Regions from separate parts of the Homo sapiens genome. Here all the other regions are linked to region 3. The links come from fine-mapping of genetic effects on gene expression. A gene starts in region 3. Each other region holds a variant in brackets. All regions are shown on one strand. Distances are between the middles of the regions.

What was found. PIP is the estimated chance that this variant, and not a neighbour inherited with it, causes the effect. A credible set is the group of variants that fine-mapping cannot tell apart.
Region 1: its variant is the best candidate, but not a certain one, in a credible set for the expression of ATG16L2 in whole blood (TOPMed, PIP 0.77).
Region 2: its variant is the best candidate, but not a certain one, in a credible set for the expression of ATG16L2 in whole blood (TOPMed, PIP 0.81).

What each region holds. Positions count from the first base shown.
Region 1 is chr11:72,998,373-73,003,601 of GRCh38, reverse strand. It overlaps FCHSD2 (FCH and double SH3 domains 2), which reads left to right. Exons shown (of 20, transcript NM_014824.3): 5 at 2,468-2,612. Among named protein-coding and RNA genes, the nearest start is that of FCHSD2, 140 kb to the left of the region's middle. The variant A/G (reference allele first, on the strand shown) is at 3,032.
Region 2 is chr11:72,911,904-72,917,132 of GRCh38, reverse strand. All of the region lies in intron 9 of FCHSD2 (FCH and double SH3 domains 2), which reads left to right. Among named protein-coding and RNA genes, the nearest start is that of ATG16L2, 100 kb to the right of the region's middle. The variant G/A (reference allele first, on the strand shown) is at 2,824.
Region 3 is chr11:72,811,744-72,816,964 of GRCh38, reverse strand. It overlaps ATG16L2 (autophagy related 16 like 2), which reads right to left and starts at 2,554. Exons shown (of 18, transcript NM_033388.2): 1 at 2,402-2,554; 2 at 138-237. The coding sequence starts at 2,519. LOC107984421 (a long non-coding RNA gene) reads left to right here and starts at 2,898. Exons shown (of 3, transcript XR_007062771.1): 1 at 2,898-4,332. RefSeq lists enhancers at 1,782-1,931, 3,942-4,071, 4,232-4,291 and silencers at 2,462-2,911, 3,312-3,401.

The DNA.
Region 1 (5,229 bases), 190 kb before region 3:
GGCAGGAGAATGGCGTGAACCCGGGAGGTGGAGCTTGCAGTGAGCCGAGATCCCGCCACTGCACTCCAGCCTGGGCGACAGAGCAAGACTCCGTCTCAAAAAAAAAAAAAAAATCACTCTATGACCTATGATTATTTTTCCTTAATTGGAATGAAAAACACCACTACCATTGGGAGTACCACTATTATGTTAACAAGAAGTGCTTCTATTTGTTACAATTCTGCTGCTGTTACTATGTATTCATTTAAAAGAATCTGTGTATCATGAATTTTCATATCATTTGCATTTAATTTTTAAAATAGCCCTGTGAGGTAAGTGGTGCAGGTATTTTTGTTATTTCTCCATTTGCCAGTTGAGGAAATGAAAGTATAGTGAAGTGTGCTACTTATGATTATTTTGTTAAAACTAGAACTTGAACTTAGGTCTTCTGACTGGTGACTGAATTCTGTGCTTTTCATGGTATATCAGTGTTCAGGATATGTTTCCCTGCTATAAATCTGCTAAACTCTAAAGGTCTCTTTTTAAACTATCTTTTTAATGAAAGGATTTGTCTTTTTATTGTACAGTCTTCATAGTTAATACATTCATCCATTCATTTATTTACTCCTTCAACATATATTATTGTAACCATTCTTTATTTGCTAGGTCCTTGCAATAGCAAGACATACACCCCTGCCTTCATGGAGCTTTCACTATAGTGAGAGGGACAGATGTTAATAAACAATTACATTAAAATATTTATAATTAAAAGAAAAGTGCTGGAACCAAGAACAACTAACAAAGAATAACTTGATTGAGTTTGGGGGTTGGCTTGGTGGTGACGGTGAAAGACTTCCCAAAGGAAGTTACATTTAAACTGAGACTGGAAGGGCAAACAGCTATTAACTAGGAGAAGGGATAAAGAGAAGAGGGTGTTACACTGAGAGAAGAACATGGATGAAGGGTATCTCCCTTCCTCTCTTTCTTCCTATCACAATTTATAATGGTTCTTTTTCATTTTTTTTATTATTTTAAAATGTATTTTAAGTATAAATTAATAGTTACAAATCATAGTACTGAATTTTTCTCTCAGTACATTCTTCAAGAAAATCAATTGTTGGGACTGCTTAGGAGGGAGAGCCTGTGGTGAGTTTACATTGCAAGTTCCATTGGTTGTCATGCAGTGAGGCCATGGAGAGCATTCGTTTTGCTGCTCTTAACTTCATCAGTGCTTTTATGCTGACAGTTTTTGCTGGTGCAACACATTGAATCTTTCCAAAGGAATAGTGATACACCTCTGCCTAAATAATGACTATTTCCATCTAAACCGATTCATCTGGTATATTACATGAACAAATTTGTAAGACTCCATGGTTGAAAACCATAGTTTATCAAGTTTTTTCCTTTACTTCTAACTAAGATAGGGACCCAGGCAATTTTTCTTTTTCTTGCTTCTACACTGTCATCTGTTGACCACAGTGAGCATTCTGTATAGCATTTAGTCCCACATGTTGCTGTGGTTGAAAATCGATATGGATTTCCCACAAAAGGGAAATCTCAGGAGATGAATATTATAATCTATCAGAATTTCACTTTAAGGACTCATTTTAAAAAATAAAGCATTGCCATTGTTATAAATTATCGATTGTGTTTATAAATAGTGTAGGAGCATGCTAGAATTGACTAAGGCATTTAGCAAGTAGGAAAGAAGGTTGAAGAGGAAGTTGGCTAGAAAAAGCAAAGGATTAATAATTCTTTGACTTGACTGAGATTGCTGAGCACATTTATCAAGCAAAGGTGATGGCACTTGCTTGGAATGAATCCAAAGCACAGTGTGATGCTAAGCATTGTTGTAACAGGGAGACAGATGTAGAGCCACACTATTATAGATTTCTTTTGTCAGACAAAATAGACTTTGCAAGCACATCAACAGTTGTTCATGATATATTTTTCCAGCCGCGTCAGTTTATATAAGAGTAAAATGATGTCGTTGAAAGACAATGTACTATATATACAGGTACCCAATCTTCGTCTTGTATCTCAGTAGTGCCACCTTCTTCTTATATGACCTAAAGTGATACTCTAAAATCTCTCTGGGCCTCAGTTACCTTATTACTAAAATTAGGAAAATAACTTAATGAAGTAATAAAACTTGATATTCATAATTATGGCCCTGTGACAGCAAAAGACTTGGAGAGTCTGAAATATTCACTAATTTTTATAGTGTTAGCTTTGTAATTCTTGTAGCACTTTACTCCATTATTAAGAATAACTAATGAATCAGAACTCCCTATTGCTGAGCTATAAGAAGAATAGAGTATATGCCATGTTGCTTGTTATGTGTGCTGACATATTGCCTATAAGCCATTATAAATACATTAAAGAAGACATTCATTTATTCTGTCAGTGCTGCCCTGTGAGCAAAAGGTTAGCCAACTTTTTCTTCCTGTTCCCTGCCTAATGCTTTTCTATCCCTCTTTGAATTTAGGAGCATGTATCCCGTTTGGAAATCTTTTCTCGAGGGAACAATGCAGGTAGCCCAGTCTCGGATGAATATATGTGAAAACTATAAAAACTTCATTTCTGAGCCTGCAAGGACAGTGAGAAGCTTAAAAGAACAGCAACTAAAAAGGGTATTGTTTTTATTTCTGTTCTTATATGCATTTTAATATCCCAGTGCTACATTTATAATCTGCAAGGTTATGCTAAATTTTATTTAAAACTATATGGTCCCATATGTTTCTGGTTGACATTTTACTAGGATTTTCTGATTTCAACATGTTCTCATTAAGTACTATGTTTTATTAACTGCTAAAAATGAATGTAATTCAAATCCATGGACGTTCAAAAAGCTCAGTAAATACTTTTTAGTAATACCGCTTTTCGGCATAATTCAAGTACATAGATCTACTTAGTTTCACAATATCGGTATAGTTTGATGTGTATTAGAATAGTTACAAGGTTATTAATCCCACTAGTTCTTGAAAAAAGTTTACATTAATTTGTCTTACTTTCAACTTGACCCATTTTGTATAATAATTTAAAGGAAATT[A/G]ACACATTTTGACTAAACATAAAAAACTTACTTTAAAAAACCTGATGGACTCTAAACTTTAATTATATGGGTTACACATGAGTAAATGTTTTCAAATGGACATATTTTATTACACAGAAATAAAAAATTCATAGGAAAATGGCATTGCTTAATGTGACTTTTTAGAAAAGTTGGCTGTTGAAAATAGGTGATTGAATTGTGTTCTTTTGGAAATAGAGTTACAAAAATTGAGATTATCATTATACCTAATAAGTAATTAAAATTTTCTTGTGGAAGTATTAATACTTTAGAAAATATTAAAGTAAAAGAAAGAAAATATTAAAGTAATTATTTCGGGAAATAATATTTTAGAAGCCATCCAGTGTTTTGATTCTAATTGTCATTAGGATTTTCAGAACATTTTTACAAACACCTTTCCCACCAAAAACCCCCCAATTTTCCGTTTGCCAAAGATGATTCTAGTAGCATGAAATCAATATGTTAGATGTATATGTGTCTTTATGTAAAATGTTAATTTCTTTAGAGCACTCACCTAATATTAGTCAGTTAAACATATTTGTATAAGAATGCCTGTGTTTTATCTTTGCCAAAAAATATCTCTTTCAAAACAAACATAGTGAGTAACCTATGTGATCACTGGCCAGTGATTTTGAGTTGGAAGAAAGTGTGTGTGTGTGTGTGTTTGTGTGTGTGTGTGTGTGTGTCTGATTGTGCAGAAAGAGGGTGTAAGGTAGGGGCAGAGAATTAATACTAGTATAACTTCCCAACCAGGAGGAAATACTGCATTTCAAATTTCCAGTGCATTCATCAGATCTAATTGAATTACTGCCACCTTACTCAATATCAGAATATTTAGAGAGTTTAACTACCTCTGGTGCTTTTCTCTTCCATTGATGAAGTAATCTCAGACCTGAATTTAACTGACATTCCTGGGCAAAGAATGTTTGATAAGGCCGGGTGTGGTGGCTCACGCCTGTAATCCCAGCACTTTGGATGGCCAAGCCGGGTGGATCACCTGAGGTCAGGAATTCAAGACCAGCCTGACCAATATGGTGAAACCCCATCTCTACTAAAAATACAAAAATTAGCCAGGTGTGGTGGCGTGCACCTGTAGTTCCAGCTACTCGGGAGGCTGAGACAGGAGAATTGCTTGAACCCGGGAGGTGGAGATTGCAGTGAGCTGAGATCGTGCCACTGCCCTCCAGCCTGGGTGACAGAGTGAGACTCTATCTCAAAAAAAAAAAAAAAAAAAAAAGAATCTTTGGTAAGATTCAACAAATGCTCATGTCTGTGAATTAACTTGTTTTATATTATTGCTGATGATCTATGTTACATCTAAGCAATTGTTAAATATTCAGTACATATTGGGTATACCTGTCAGGACTCTGAGATAGCAAATGAAAGAAACCTCCTTCAAACTGCTTTAAGCCAAGAAGGGAATGTATCTGCTTGTATAACTGAAAATTGAAGGACTTCAAGCATGGGTGGATCTAGGGGTTCAAATGATGGTATTAGAATTCAGACTTTCTTTCCATCCATTAGCTCTGCTTTTCTGAATGGCTTCACTCACTAACAACTCTCTCCACATGGTGACCCCCAATGTGCCAGATTTATAAATCTTAAAGGTAGCAATCCCAGATTTTTCATTTTCCCAAATGACCAGAATTGTTTTGCATAGCAGCTGCATCATTTGGCATTCCCACCAACAGTGCACAAGGGCTCCAATTTCTCTACAGCCTTGCCAACATCTGTTATCCTTTTAAAGAATAATAGCCACCTAACAGGTGTGAGGTAATTAATATTTTATTGTGGCTTTGATCTGTATTTCACTGATGGTTGGTGATATTAAGCAATCTAATATTTTTTATTATCAATTTTTTCCTCCACTATTAGCTTCTTACTTTTTAAATCCTATATTCTTTTAGTAATTACCTTAGAGATTATAATATCCCTCCCTAACTTATTACATTACCTTGAATCATTAATCTTACTATTCCCCAATCCTTGTTCCAAATTAACTTTTTTTTTTTGAGACAGAGTCTCGCTCTGTCACCCAGGCTGGAGTGCAGTGGCATGATCTCGCTCACAGCAACCTCTGCCTCTTGGGCTCAGGTGATCCTCCCACCCCAGTCTCCTGAGTGGCTGGGATTACAGGCGTGTGCCACCACACCTGGCTAATTTTATTGTATTTTTAGTAG
Region 2 (5,229 bases), 100 kb before region 3:
GGTGCCTGTAGTCCCAGCTGCTTGGGAGGCTGAGGCAGGAGAATCGCTTGAACCCGAAAGGTGGAGGTTGCAGTGAGCTGAGATCGTACCACTGCACTCCAGCCTGGGCGACAGAGCAACACTCTGCTTCAAAAAAAAAAAAAAAAAAAAAAAAAAAAAAAAAAGAATGAAGTTCAATGAAGTTGTGAACCCTTACCTCACAAAATTAACTCAAAATTGATCAATGACCTAACTTATAAGAGAAAACAGAGATAGATCTTTATGACCTTGATTTGGCAGTGCATTCTCAGATTTGACGTTGAAAGCACAAGTAACGAAAGAAAACATAGATAATTAGACTGTATCAAATTAAAAGCTTTTGTGCATCAAAGGACATTATTAAGAATGTGAAATCAACCCAAATGATGAGAGAAAATATTTGCACATCACATATCTGATAAAAGTTTCATATTCAGAATATACAAAGAACTCTTACAACTCAACATCAGAGACAACCCAATATAAAAGTGAACAAAGGAGGCTGGGCACAGTGGCTCACGCTTGTAATCCCAATACTTTGGAAGGCCAAGGTGGGGGAATTGCTTGAGCTGAGGAGTTCAAGAGCAGCCTAGGCAACATAGCAAGACCCTATCTCTACAAAAAAATTTTTTAAATTAGCCAGACATGGTGCTGCATACCTGTTGTCCCAACTACTCGGGAGGCCCAAGTGGGAGGATTACTTGAGCCCAGGAATTGGAAGCTGCAGCAGGCTATGATCATGCTACTACTGTACTGTAGCCTGGGTGACAGAGCAAGACCCTGTCTCTTTAAAAAAAAAAAAAAAAAAAAAAAAGTTGTGTACCAAAAGGTCAATGAAATTAAAAGCTAGTTTTTTGAAAAGATTAACAAAATTGATAAACCTTTTTTTCCCTTTAATTTTAATTTCAGGGGTACATGTGCAGGATGTGCAGATTATGTAGGTAAACTTGTGTCATGGAGGGTTTGGTACACATTATTTTATCACCCACGTATTAAGCCTAGTACCCATTAGTTATTTTTCCTGATTCTCTCCCTCCTCCCACCCTCCACCCTCTACCCTCTGGTAGGCCCTAGTGTGCGTTGTTCCCATGTGTTCTCATAATTTAGCTCCCACTTACAAATGAGAACATGTGGTATTTGCTTTTCTGTTCCTACATTAGTTTGCTAAGGATAGTGGCCTCCAGCTCCATTCATGTTCCTGCAAAGGACACGATCTCATTCTTTTTTATGGCTGCATAGTGTTCTGTGGTGTATATGTACCACATTTTCTTTTCTTTTCTTTTTGTTTTTTGTTTTTGAGGCAGAGTCTTGCTCTGTCACCCAGGCTGGAGAGCAATGGCGTGATCTCGGCTCACTGCAACCTCTGCCTCCCAGGTTCAAGCGATTCTCCTGCCTCAGCCTCCCGAGTAGCTGGGATTATAGGCGCCCACCACCGCGCCCGGCTAATTTTTGTATTTTTGTAGAGCTGGGGTTTTGCCTTGTTGGCCAGGCTGGTTTTGAACTCCTGACCTCAGGTGATCCACCCACCTTGGCCAAAGTGCTGGGGTTACAGGCATGAGCCACCACGCCCGACCATGTACCACATTTTCTATATCCAGTCTATCATTGGTGGGCATTTAGGTTTGTTCCATGTCTCTGCTATTGTGAATGGTGCTGCAATGAACATAAGCAGGCATATGTCTTTATAATAGAACAATGTATATTCCTTTGGGGTTATACTCAGTAACGGGATTGCTGGGTCAAATGGTTTTTCTGTCTCTAGGTCTTTGAGGAATTGCCACCCTGTCTTCCACGATGGTTGAACTAATTTACACTCCTACCAACAGTGTAAAAGTGTTCCTTTTTCTCCACAACCTTGCCAGCATCCGTTGTTTTTTTAATTTTTTATTGATAACCATTCTTATTGGTGTGAGATGGTATCTCATGGTGGTTTTGATTTGCATTTCTGTAATGATCAGTGATGTTGAGTTTTTTTCATATGATTGCTGGCCACATGTATGTCTTATTTTCAGAAGTGTCTGTTCATGTCGTTTGCCCACTTTTGAATGAAGTTGTTTGTTTCTTTCTTGTAAACTTGTTTAAGTTCCTTATAGATGCTGGGTATTAGACCTTTGTCAGATGCTTAGTTTGCAAAAAAAAAAAAAAAAAAAATTCCCATTCTGTAGGATGCCTTTTTATTCCGTTGATAGTTTATTTTGCTGTGCAGAAGCTCTTAAGTTTTATTAGATCCCATTTGTCAATTTTTGCTTTTGTTGCAATTGCTTTTGGCATCTTCATCATGAAATCTTTGCCCATGCCTATGTCCTGAATGGTATTGCCTAGGTTTTCCTCTAGGGTTTTTATAGTTTCGGGTTTTACATTTAAGTCTTTAGTCCATCTTGAGTTGACTTTTGTATATGGTGTAAGGAAGGGGTCCAGTTTCAATTTTCTGCATATGGCTAGCCAGTTATCCCAGCACCATTTATTAAATAGGGAATCCTTTCCCCATTGCTTTTTGTCAGGTTTGTTGAAGATCAGGTGGTTTTAGGTGTGCGGTCTTATTTCTGGGTTCTCTATTCTGTTTCATTGGTCTATGTGTCTGTTGTACTAGTACCATGCTGTTTGGTTGCTGTGGCCCTGTGGTATAGTTTGAAGTTGGGTAGCGTGATGCCTCTAGCTTTGTTCTTTTTGCTTAGGATTGCCTTGGCTATTCAGAATCTTTTGGTTTCATATGAATTTTAAAATAGTTTTTTCTAGTTCTGCAAAGAATGTCAATGGTAGTTCAATGGGAATAGCATTGAATCTATAAATTGCTTAGGGCAGGCT[G/A]GGCACCTGACTCACACCTGTAATCCCAGCACTTTGGGAGGCCACGGTGGGCAGATCACTTTAGGTCAGGAGTTCAAGATCAGTCTGGCCAACATGGTGAAACCCCATCTCCACTAAAAATACAAAAATTAGCCAGGAGTGGTGGCACATGTCTGTAGTCCCAGCTGCTCGGGAGGCTGAGGCAGGAGAATCACTTGAACCCAGGAAGCGCAGTTTGCAGCGAGCTGAGATTATGCCACTGCACTCTAGCCTGGGCGACAGTGAGACTCCTTCTGAAATAAATAAATAAATAAATAAATAGCTTAAGGCAGTATGGCCATTTTTATGATATTGATTTTTCCTGTCCATGAGCATAGTATGTTTTTTCATTTGTTTGTATCATCTCTAATTTATTTGAGCAGCAGTGATTTGTAGTTCTCCTTTTAGAGGTCCTTCAATTCCCTTGTTAGCTGTATTTCTAGGGTTTTTTTTTTTGTTTTTTTTTTGGGTTTTTTTTGGTTTTTTTGTATATCAGTTGTGAAAGGGAGTCCATTAGTAATTTGGCTCTCGGCTTGACTGTTGAAAATCAGCAAACCTTTAGCCAGACTAGTGAGGAAAAAAAGAGAATAACCAAATAAATAAAATCAGAAGTGAAAAAGGAGACATTACAACCAATACCACAGAAATTCAAAGGACCATTAGAGGCTACTGTGAACAATATATGCCAATAAATTGGAAAACCCAGAAGAAATGGATAAATAGGGCTGGGTGTGATGGCTCACACATGTAATCACAGCACTTTGGGAGGCCAAGGTGGGTGGATCACTTGAGGCCAGGAGTTCGCGATCAGCCTGGCCAACATGGCGAAACCCTGTCTCTACTAAAAATACAAAAATTATCCAAGTGTGGTGGCACATGCCTGAAATCCCAGCTGCTCGGGAGGCTGAGGTGTGAAAATCATTTGAACCTGGGAGGCAGAGTTTGCAGTGAGTCAGGATTGCACTGCTGCACTTCATCCTGGGCAACAGACTGAGACTCTGTCTCAAAAAAAGAAAAAAAATGGATAAATTCCTAGATGCATGCAACCTACCAATATGGTTTGGATTTGTGTCCCCACCCAAATCTCATCAAATTATAATAATCCCCAATGTTGGAGGAGGGGCCAGTGGGAGGTAATTAAATCACGGGGATGGAGTTCCCCCTTGCTGTTCTCTTGGTAGTGAGTGAGTCCTCATGAGATCTGGTTGTTTAAAAGTGTGTAGCACCTCCCCCTTCTCTCTTTTCCTCCTGCTCCTGCCACGTAAGACAAAGCTGCTTCCCCTTTGCCTTCTGCCATGATTGTAAGTGTCCGGAAGCCTCCCCAGCCATGCTTCCTGTACAGCCTGCAGAACCATGGGTCAATTAAACTGTTTTTCTTTATAAATTACCCAGTCTCAGGTAGTTCATTATAGCAATGTGAGAATGGACTAATACACCTACCAAGATTGAGCCATGAAGAAATTCAAAACCTGAAGAGATGAAAAAACAAGTAACAAGATCAAAGCTGTAATAGAAAGTCTCTCAGCAAGGAAAAGCCTGGGACTGGGTGGCTTTGCTGCTGAATTTTATCAAACATTTAAAGAATAACTAATACCAATTTTACTCAACCAATTCCAAAAAATAGAGGAGGGGGGAATACTTCCCATCTCATTCTCTAAGGCCAGCATTACCCTGATACCAAAATCAGACAAAGACACATCAAAAAATAAAAACTACAAGCCAGTATCCCTGATGAACATTAATGCAAAAATCCTCAACAAAATACTAGCAAACTGAATTCAACAACGCATTAAAAAGATTATTCATCATGACCAAGTGGAATGTATCCCAAGAATGCAGGGATGGTTCAACATACACAAATCACTCTGTGTGAAGGGCAAAAACTATATGATCATTTCAATTGATACTGAAAAAGCATTTGATAAAATTTAACCTCCCCTTATGATAAAACCCCTCAATAAACTGGGTATAGAGGGAACATATCTCAATACAATAAAAGCCATGTATAACAGACCCACAATGAGTATCATATTGAATGGAGAAAAACTGAATGCGTTTCCTCTAAGATTTGGAACATGACAAGGATGCCCACTTTTACCACTGTTGTTCAACATAGTACTGGAAGTCCTAGCTACAGCAGTCAGACAAAAGAAAGAAAGAGCATCCAAAGTGGAAAGGAAGAAGTCAAATTATTATTCTTTGCAGATGATGTAGGCTTATATTTTGAAAAACCTGAAGACTCCACCAAAATATTCAAACTGATAAACACCTTTAGTAAAGTTGCAGGATACAAAATCAACATACAAAAATAAGTAGCATTTCTATATGTGAACAGTAAGCATTCTGAAAAATAAATCAAGAAAGTAATGTCATTTACAATAGCTACAA
Region 3 (5,221 bases):
CTCCACCACCCCCACCACCCCTGGGCAGCAGCCAAGGGCTGATGAGGCACTAGGGAGAGAATGAACCCAGCACAGGCAGCAGGGGCAGGGCCCCAGCACAGGCAGCCCTTTGTGACCACGGACCCACATACACTTACCAGGGGCCCTGGTGGGTGGTGGGAGTGACACTGTTTGGCTCCGGCTGCAGCTTCTTTGAGAACTTGTCCAGCAGCTCAGCCTTCTCTAAGAGATGGTTATCTGGAGAGTGCAAGAGAGTGAGCCTGGGGCAGAGACAGATACCCAGCAGCCCCCTGGCATGCAATTTATCTCCGGCTAAAAGGGCTGAAGGAGCCCAGAGATGCTAGGGATGGGGAAGCTTCTGGCAGGCTGGCCTCTGCCCTGTGCCTGAGGGGCATCTGTGCAGTTCTACAGGACCTTCAGCCCTAGCAGTGTCCTCATAGCACCGGTCCCCAGGCCCACGTGGAAGAGGACCTGCTCTCCCAGGGACAGAAGGATGACCACTGCGGGGTACTGCCCGCTGAGGGTCCTGAGGGAAGGAAGGGGCCTGGGATTGATTCATCCCTGCCTCAGAGCAAGGCTTAGCCCCAGAAAGTGATGAAATAAACCGAGCTCTACCTGTCAATGGCCTTTGGCAAGTCACTTCCCCTCCAAGGGCTCTAGCTTTCTGCACTTAAAAATAATCCCCAGCCGGGCGCGGTGGCTCACACCTGAATTCCCAGCGCTCTGGGAGGCCGAGGCGGGCGGATCACGAGGTCAGGAGATCGAGACCATCCTGGCTAACACGGTGAAACCCCCATCTCTACTAAAAAATACAAAAAATTAGCCAGGCGTGGTGGCAGGCGCCTGTAGTCCCAGCTACTCGGGAGGCTGAGACGGGAGACAGGCGTGAACTTGGGAGGCAGAGCTTGCAGTGAGCGGAGATCACACCACTGCACTCCAGCCTGGGCAACAGAGCAAAGACTCCATCTCAAATAAATAAATAAATAAATAATCCCAACTTCCCCAGCCCTGGTGTAAGGTACCCCCAGGCCAGAATAGAAAGTCCTTGAGCAATTATCCAGCCGACATTCTGGAGGTTGGTGGTTTGACCCTGGAACACCCTCCCCCATCAACAGTCACTTCCTCTTTTCTCACCAGTTCCAGGGGAGGGTGGGGTGGTAAGTCCGGGCCTAGCTCCCTCCTCATCAACTTCCTTCCCACACTCAGTGCCCTGTCACCTTGACTGAGGCCCTGGGCCTGGCCTAGTTCTCATGAAAACCCCACCTCAGCCCCCAGGGTACTGCAGCACCCAGCAAACCTAAAGAAGGTCTCTATACCCAATTAACAAGTAAGAAGACTGAGGCTTAGCGATGTGATCTGCCCAAGGTTTCAAGACTGGCCCTTCAGTCTGATTTCAGCCCTCCAGATCTCTCTAGTCCCTCAGACTCACAGCTCCCTGGGTCGGGGCGGGGGGCAGGGGTTGGGGGGGCGGTGACCCCCTCCCTCAAACTGGACGGTTCCACTGTCTGTCTGAGCAGTGGAGAAGTGTGGCTGCTGGAGGTGGGGGCTGGCCTCGCAACCCTGAAGGTAGAGGACCAGCAGCCTGGAAGCTTGCAGAGAAATTTTCCTGGCTAAGAGCAGATTTGATTGTGGGGGTTTGGCCAAGATTAGCCCCAGTGAGAGAGCCGCAGGGATTGTGGTTAGACTTCCAACCACAGACATACAATCGCAGGCGGCCAGAGGTGCGACACACAGGCACACCTGTTCATCCCCTCTTGAAATGCCACACCCTATCCTGACCAGCTGCCCAGAAACAATTCTGAGAGTCCGACTTCGCTGGGCTCAGCCAGCATCCACCAGCAGCCCGGGGCCCCCTGATGCCCCCTCAGGCTGGGTAGGCTGACAGGGAGGTGTTCCATAAGCCTGTGCCAGCGTCGCCTGTCAGCGGCAGAGCCTGAGATGCACAGCCTCCTCCTTAGAGGTTCCGAGTGTCGCCCCTCTCCGGATGGGCCAATAAGTGGCTGCTCTGGACAAGTCCCGCGTTCTTTCACTGCGCTACCGAGACTAAGTGCACTGATCAAGCCCCTACCCCGGGGACTGCCCGGGTGGGGAGGCAAAAGAGACCCTGCAAAACCAACACCCGAGGACGCACTTGCGTCTCGGAAGCCCAGCTTGTGGGAGGCAGAGCCCGTCCTGAGGGGCGACGAGGGCAGGGGGACCAGGAGGGGCTCGTCCAGGTTCTAACCAGAGCCTGGATGGCAAGGGGCGGAGTCCTGGCAGTCGGGATGGGCGTAACGCACAGGCTCAAGGCATAAGGCACAGCGCACTCGGGTCACAGGCGGAGGAGCCAGCCAAACCCTCTCCCCGCGCCCGTAGCCGCGTCCCCTCAGCCGCCATCCTCTCAGCACCGGGGCGCACTCACAGGCCGGCACCAGCTCCAGGAAAAGCGCCTTTTGCGTACGGTCCCGAAGCCGCAGCTGCCGCACGATGTGGCGTTTCCAGCGCGCTGCGGGGGCACCGGGGACGCCCGGCCCCGCCATGGCCGCGCTCTCCCGCCTAGCGGCGCGTTCCTCCCGCCCAGGACGGCGCCAGGCCGGGGCGGGGCCTCGCGGGGACTCCGTGACGCCAGGGGGCGGGCGGCGGCGGGGAATCCCCGGCTTGTCCCAAGAGGGCTTTGGCGGGGAGGACCGAAGGCCGACGCCGGGAGGATCTGCCTCCGGGAGGAGCCGCCTCCGGGTCTGAACCGCCGGGGCCCCGTCCGAAATGTTCACCTAAGTGGGGGCTCCTGTGGCTGCGAGGGTCATAAGCAGGAGCGAGGTCGGAGCCTCCGGGGAGGCTTCCCCCACGCGGGTGGAGCGCTCCGGAGGCGGGGCCCTCAAGGCCCGGGTGTCTTAACCCCGCCGCGCCCGGGCCGAGTTCGAGAGCCGCTGGTGCTTCCCAGGCCGTCGCGCTCCTGGCCGCGCACCCAGCCAGGGACCCAGAGGCCCTCAGCCCCGGGCTCTGCGCGTACACTGAGGGCGCGGCGCAGCAGGACAGCAAGATAAGGAAGCAGAGACTGAAGGGAGGAATCCCCGCTTTCCGGGGATGATGGCGTTCGAGTTGGGTCTGTGAGGGATGAAATAGGAGTTGGCCAGAGGGAGAGAGGGACTCTAGGCCTCGAGAAGAGCACGTGCAGAGGTTCCGTGACACGAAAACGCCAGGTGGGTGCGGGGCTGGGAGGACAGGAGGCAGAAGGGTTTACGGCTCCACATGGTCGCCGAAATTTTAGGTCCCTGAGAGTAAAGGGGTGCAGCTGATTTCATCTAGAAAGCCCCTGGCCGGGAGGAGAGAACGAGCTTGCTTGCCTGGGGTTGCAAAGGAGTGGGTAGCTGAGACGGCCAGCACCCCAGCATCCTGACTCAGGGCCAGACGCTTCACCCCATTGGGCGGCGTCTGGAGGAGCAGACACATCTCTTGTGGGTACCCTCGAAAGTGAATCATGGGTCGCAGGGAACTGTGGTCAAACCGTCTCTAGCTAGATGCTAGAGAGCCAGCTCTGCAGGCTCAGGCTACTGTGAGACACGAAAGGAGGGACTCGCTGGGCACAGCCTCACCCTGGGGCATGCCAGCAGGCCCTGCCCTCTGAGTGTTGGCAGACTTGAACATCCCTAGGGAACGAGAGAAGTTGGGCAACGATGGGAGAGCAGTGCAGGCCCTGGAGGTGACGAGTCTGTTGAGATTCTGATGGGGATGGGTCAGAGGACGTAGAAAGCAGTGAAGGCCTAGACGCCCCCAGGTCAGTGTAGCCTGCTCTGCTTCCAGTGAGCTGGGCTCAGTCCCCCACATGTCATTGTCTTAGACGCCCATGGCCTTTGCACAGGCCGAGCCTGATGTTTGGAACATCGTCGCCTCTAGGGGGCCTGGCTCCTAATCATGCATCACCTCCTCCAGGAGAACTTTCCTGCCCCTACACTGAGTTCAAGCTTCTCAGACACCAGCCCCAGTTGAGTTCGAGTTATAACCGTCACCAGTTATCACACCATCCTGTAATCTGTGCGGTGCCCCTTAGGGCAGGACCTGGGTCCTAGATGTCTCTGTACCTCTAGCCCCAAACCAGGCCTGACCTGTCTCTTGAAGGAGTATTTGTGTTGAAGATGGGTGGTAACGTTCAGCAAAAGCCATGCCCAGGAGACAGGCACAGTACCCATGGAGACCCAGGGCCAGCTGATGACAGTGATGAATTCCCTTTAGAACTGGCGGACTCTTGGGTGCTTGGAGACACTATATAAATAAGGAACTCTGGCTGTGTGCATGGGAGAGTATATTAACAGGGCTTGGCCTGGCTGTGAGGTGCAGAGATGCCGTTTCTCTCAGGTAAGGAGCCATATTGGGGCAGGGGTTTCCTAATCCTTTTTTGACTCACAAAATACACCTAGGAAATGTTAAATAAATAGTCATTTTTGAGTAGTATATGATAAAGAAGTGATTGATTTTGACTAAAAATATTCATGTTCTATTTTTAGAATATGAAAGATTGTATTATAAAGATCACTTGAAATAAAATTTTAGATAATATATGGAGACAAATTTCTGCTTTTTACATTTAACTTGCTGTTTAATGTATCTCAAATTATTTATGTAAGAGATATATGATTTGACCAATAAATATAAAAAAATGTTATACCATAATCTGGGGACCTAAAGTACTTCACTTTTTTTGTTCTGTTTTGTTTTTGAGACAGGGTCTCTCTCTGTTGCCCAGGCTGGAGTGCAGTGGCCCAATCATGGCTCACTGCAGCCTCATCCTCCTGGGATTAAATGATTCTTCCACCTCAGTCTCCCGAGTAGCTGAGACTACAGGCACATGCCACTATCGCTGGTTTTGTTGTTGTTTTGTTTTGTTTTGTTTTTTGAGACAGAGTCTCTGTTACCCAGGCTGGAGTGCAGTGGCACAATCTCGGTTCATTGCAACCGCCTCCTCCCGGGTTCAAGCGATTCTCATGCATCCGCCTTCCGAATAGGTGGGATTACAGGCATGCGTCACCACACCCAGCTAATTTTTGTACTTTTAGTAGAGACAGGGTTTCACCATGTTGGCCAGGCTGATCTCCAGCTCCTGACCTCAAGTGATCCACCCGCCTCAAGCCTCCCAAAGTGCTGGGACTACAGGTGTGAGTCACCGTGCCCAGCCGCCCAGCTCATTTTAAATTTTTCTTGTAAAGACAAGGTCTCACTATGTTGCCCAGGCTGGTCTCTAATTCCT